Linked DNA regions of Homo sapiens: region 1 is linked to region 2. Evidence: fine-mapped expression QTL. Tissue or cell type: whole blood. Region 2 holds a variant in brackets; the other region holds the start of a gene. All regions are shown on one strand. Distances are from middle to middle.

Region 1 (2,765 bases), 40 kb after region 2:
GGAAAAAACTATTATCTCCAGAATATACACCAAGAACATCGATAACATTGGTTGCATATGAAAAGGGATTTCAGGTTTTCAACTGCTTCAAGCAGTGTCCCCAGAGATCCATAATCACTCTCCTTTGCAATTAAGGCTGAAAGCAGTTTGAGATGCACTGCCACAGGGCACTCCTAAATAAATTTGGAATTGGTTTTTTTTGTTTTTTTTTTGTTGTTGTTGTTGTTTGATACAGAGTCTCGCTCTGTTGCCCAGGCTGGAGTGCAGTGGTGCGATCTCGGCTCACTGCAAGCTCCGCCTCCCGGGTTCACGCCATTCTCCTGCCTCAGCCTCCTGAGTAGCTGGGACTACAGGCGCCCGCCACCACGCCCGGCTAATTTTTTGCATTTTTTAGTAGAGACGGGGTTTCACAATGTTAGCCAGGATGGTCTCGATCTCCTGACTTTGTGATCCGACCGCCTCGGCCTCCCAAGGTGTTGGCATTACAGGCGTGAGCCACCGCGCCCGGCCAATAAATCTGTAATTGTTAACTGTCTCTGCAGAAACCAACGGTACCATCAGAAACAGAAAAATGAAATGAAATAATTGATTCATTGGGCGTTCGTTTGTGTACTGGACTGTAAGCATATGAGTCCTCGTCCTCTCCTCCTACCATCCATAGGACTTAACACAAGGACTTGAGGACCCCCTAATGGATGAAATGTTTGATAAAAACTTCTCAACTGGGAGGAGCTCTACCTCACGTTTTTATAACTCCACTTTCTTGTTTCCAAGACGTTGTACACAAAACTGAAGATAGTCATTTAAAACAAAGTAACGTCCAAAACAAAAAATATGCTGAAAATAAAAACACAACGAAAGCACGGCTTCAAATCCTTTGTTTGACTTTCCAATCACTTTTGGAAGACGCAGGGTAGGCTGGAAAAGAAAAAGGCTATTAGGCGGGCCTGTTCAGCAGAACGAGACCCGGAGAGGCATTGTATCAAAGAAAAGGAGTCTCCGGTCGCAAGCCCCACCTTTCCTCCCCAGCAGCAGCTACCTGCTGAGGGAAAGAGGAGGGAGAGGGGAAGGGACGCAAAGTCGAGAATCAAAGGAAGAGAGGAAAGTGGGGTCAGGCGCTGAGAAGCCGAAATGAAATTGGAACATTGGTGGAATTACGAGGAAGGCGTGGCAGAGAGTGACAAGCCAACCGGGAAGATCCATGGGCCGATGAGACGCAAGGAGGGTGTTCGCGGGAGGAGGGAAAAAATAAAAGGGGTTTTGAGGTGAAGAGCGCCCGAGGCTTCGATGACAGCTCGGACCGGGTCTTCGACTCCAGGGGCGGGGGCGACCCGGGAGCCTTCCATTGTGCGCGCCCCTTCCTCTCCCCGCCCCCGCCCTCGCCCCCGCGGCTTCGGGCCGCAACCCCAGCTGCCGCCTGCGCCTCCCGTTTCCCCCGGGTAGGAGACAATATGTTCAGCCCTTCTCTGACCCTTTCTCACCGGATGAAGATGGCCGTCGCCCGAGCTTTCTCTTGTCCATCTTCTCCCGCTGCTGAAATTTCAGTTGCAGGCGCTGTCACCTCAGGACCCCTCCGGCTTGGAGAGGGAGGGGGAGGGGAAAGGAAAAAAAAAAAAAAAAAAAAAAAAAAAAAAAAGCCCGCAAAGTGCGAAGCGCGCTTGCGCAAGAGCCGTCGCCTGCCCTTCGACCGGAAATCAGCCGCCCCTCCCACCTTCGACCGGAAATCACTTCCTGGGACTTTTCACTGTGGGCTGCCTCTTCCAGCGTTTTTTTGGTGGCGTTTATTTCATGATCTGAGCCCCTCTGGGGAGGTGAACCACCTGGGTGCTCGATTTTAGCTTTGTTGACTTTGAAGATTAGATTGACAAAAATTAAAAGGGAAAAACAGGAACTCCTCCGGTTCACTGGATCTCGCGAGGTGGCCAAACAACTATGAAAACAAAACGTTAGCGTTTGCAGTATTACATCCCTCACAGCCTCTCTTACATATTTGCCCCCAACGCCTTTCCTCGAACTCAGAAACCAAAAGATTTTAAGATGGCAAAATCACCTAATAATAGCCTAGCTATTAGTTTAGCATTTGCTGTGGAAATATGTCAGCAGACGAGGAAAAATGTCTTAGGATTCCTTTTTAAAATTCGAACTTGTGATTTTTAAAGTTCCTTAAAAGAAAAGCTAGAACTTAATTTTTCAATAACTGAAATGCTGATATGACAGAAAGTGGGTGGCTATAAACTTGGAATTTGTTCAATTAACATTTACCACGATACTTAAGGGACTAATCCAGTCCTCAATGAACTCAAGGTCTGGTACTATTAGCCTGATTATCCCTAATGGTGCATATCTGAATAATTTTTAAATGCACGTGTAAGCTTTCATGACGATTTAATCACAAGTTTAACAAAATTCAGCACAGTGCTCTAAGCAGGGAAAATGTTTCTGGCATGTTCAAAGCCCGAAGGGACTCTGGAAGTAGGGTTTGATTCCCAAGCTGGCCCCTTTATACCCCTAACGCCTATCCCTCCAACCCCCATCTCCCATCCTAACGGAGTCAATAAAGGGATCGGCCCAACTCGTCCACTAGAGCAGTCCCCTTCATCGTGAGTTAAGCCTTCTTAATTATAATGTGGTCAGTCCCCAGGTAGAGGTAAGGCCCCAGGTGTTGTGGGGTGTTGGGCCTGGGGAAGTGTTCTACATGGCAGGAATGACTGCAAAGCAGAAATACTTTAAGTCTTGCTGGGATTGAAGTTTACTGTAAGGATTTC
Region 2 (2,765 bases):
ACAGAATTGGAAAAAACTACTTTAAAGTTCATACGGAACCAAAAAAGAGCCCACATTGCCAAGACAATCCTAAGCAAAAAGAACAAAGCTGGAGGCATCACACTACCTGACTTCAAACTATACTACAAGGCTACAGTAACCAAAACAGCATGGTACTGGTACCAAAACAGAGATATAGACCAATGGAACAGAACAGAGGCCTCAGAAATAACACCACACATTTACAATCATCTGATCTTTGACAAACATGACAAAAACAAGAAATGGGGAAAGGATTCCCTATTTAATAAATGGTGCTGGGAAAACTGGCTAGCCATATGTAGAAAACTGAAACTGGATCCCTTCCTGACACCTTATACAAAAATTAATTCAAGACGGATTAAAGACTTCAATGTTAGACCTAAAACCATAAAAACCCTAGAAGAAAACCTAGGGAATACCATTCAGGATATAGGCATAGGCAAGAACTTCATCACTAAAACACCAAAAGCAATGGCAACAAAAGCCAAAATAGACAAATGCGATCTAATTAAACTAAAGAGCCTCTGCATGGCAAAAGAAACTACCATCAGCGTGAACAGGCAACCTACAGAATGGGAGAAAATTTTTACAATCTACCCATCTGACACAGGGCTAATATCCAGAATCTACAAAGAACTCAAATTTACAAGAAAAAAACAAACAACCCCCTCATCAAAAAGTGGGCAAAGGATATGAACAGACACTTCTCAAAAGAAGACATCTATGCAGCCAACAGACACATGAAAAAACACTCATCATCACTGGTCATCAGAGAAATGCAAATCAAAACCACAATGAGATACCATCTCACGCCAGTTACAATGGCAATCATTAAAAAGTCAGCAAACAACAGATGCTGGAGAGAATGTGGAGAAATAGGAATGCTTTTACACTGTTGGTGGGAATGTAAATTAGTTCAACCATTGTAGAAGACAGTGTGGCGAATCCTCAAGGATCTAGACCTGGAATTACCATTTGACTGAGCAATCCCATTACTGGGTATACACCCAAAGGATTATAAATCATGCTACTATAAAGACACACGCACACATATGTTTATTGCAGCACTATCCACAATAGCAAAGACTTGGAACCAACCCAAATGTCCATCAATGATAGACTGGATTAAGAAAATGTGGCACATATACACCATGGAATACTATGCAGCCT[T/TA]AAAAAAAATGAGTTCATGTTCTTTGCAGGGACATGGATGAAGCTGGAAACCATCATTCTCAGCAAACTATCACAAGGACAGAAAACCAAACACCGCATGTTCTCACTCGTAGGTGGGAACTGAACAATGAGATCACTTGGACACAGGGCGGGGAACATCACACACTGGGACCTGTCGCGGGGTGGGGAGCTGGGGGAGGGATAGCATTAGGAGAAATACCTAATGTAAATGATGAGTTGATGGGTGCAGCAAACCAACATGGCACATGTATACCTATGTATCAAACCTGCACATTATGCACATGTACCCTAGAGCTTAAAGTATAATAAAAAATAATTTTTTAAAAACCACCAAATCATAAAGGTAAACAATAAAAGAATAGAGAAATAGAGATATAAAAGCAGTCAGAAAATCATTAACAAAATGAGTAAGTCCTTTTTTTAAAACTTTTAATTTCAGAGGTACCTGTGTAGGTTTGTTACATAGGTAAACTTATGTCATGGGGGGTTGTTATACAGAATATTTATGACCCAGATATTAGGCCTAGTACTCATTAGCTATTTTACCTGATGCTCTCCCCTCCTCACACCCTCCACCTTCTGAAAGGCTCTAGCATGTGTTGTCCCCTTCTGTGTCCATGTATTCTCATAACTTAGCTCCCACTTATAAGTGAGAACATGCAGTGTTTGGTTTTCTGTCCTCCATTAGTTTGCTAAGGATAATGGCCTCCAGCTCCATTCAAGTCCCTGCAACAGACATGATCTCATTTTATGGTGTATATGTGCCACATTTTCTTTATCCAGTAAAACATTACTGGGCATTTAGATTGATTCCATGTCTTTGCTATTATAAATACTGCTGCAATAAACATATGTGTGCATGTGTCTTTATAATAGAACAATGTATATTCCTTTGGGTAAATACCCAGTAATGGGACTGCTGGAGTGAATGGTACTTCTGTCTTTACATCTTTGAGGAATGGCCACATTGTCTTCCACAATGGGTGAACTAATTTACACTCCCACCAACACTTTATAACCATTCCTTTTTCTCCACAACCTCACCACCATCTGTTACTTTTGGAGTTTTTAATAGTAGCAATTTTGACTAGTGTGAGATGGTATCTCACTGTGGTTTTGATTTGCATTTCTCTAATGATTAGTGATGTTGAGCTTTCTTTCATATGATTGTTGGCTGCATGTACGTCTTCTTTGGAAAAGCACTTGTTCATGCCCCCCTTGGCCCACTTTATAATGGGGTTGTTTTTTGCTTGTAAATTTGTTTAAGTTAATTATAGATGCAGTATATTCGACTTCTGTCAGATGCATAGTTTGCAAAAATTTTCTCCCATTCTGTACACTGTCTGTTTACTCTGTTGACAGTTTCTTTTGGTGTGCAGAAGCTCTTTAGTTTAGTTAGATCCCATTTGTCAATTTTTGCTTTTGTCCCAATTGCTTTTGGTATCTTTATCATGAAATCTTTGCACGTGCCTATCTCCTGAATGGTACTGCCTAGGCTGTCTTCCAGAGTTTTCAGTTTGAGGTTTTACATTTAAGTCTTTAATCCATCTCGA

What was found. PIP is the estimated chance that this variant, and not a neighbour inherited with it, causes the effect.
Region 1: SENP7 starts here. The variant in region 2 is fine-mapped to the expression of SENP7 in whole blood (TOPMed, PIP 0.93).

The regions. Positions count from the first base shown.
Region 1 is chr3:101,511,610-101,514,374 of GRCh38, forward strand. SENP7 (SUMO specific peptidase 7) reads right to left here and starts at 1,603. Exons shown (of 24, transcript NM_020654.5): 1 at 1,482-1,603. The coding sequence starts at 1,521.
Region 2 is chr3:101,471,132-101,473,896 of GRCh38, forward strand. All of the region lies in intron 3 of SENP7 (SUMO specific peptidase 7), which reads right to left. Among named protein-coding and RNA genes, the nearest start is that of SENP7, 41 kb to the right of the region's middle. The variant T/TA (reference allele first, on the strand shown) is at 1,192.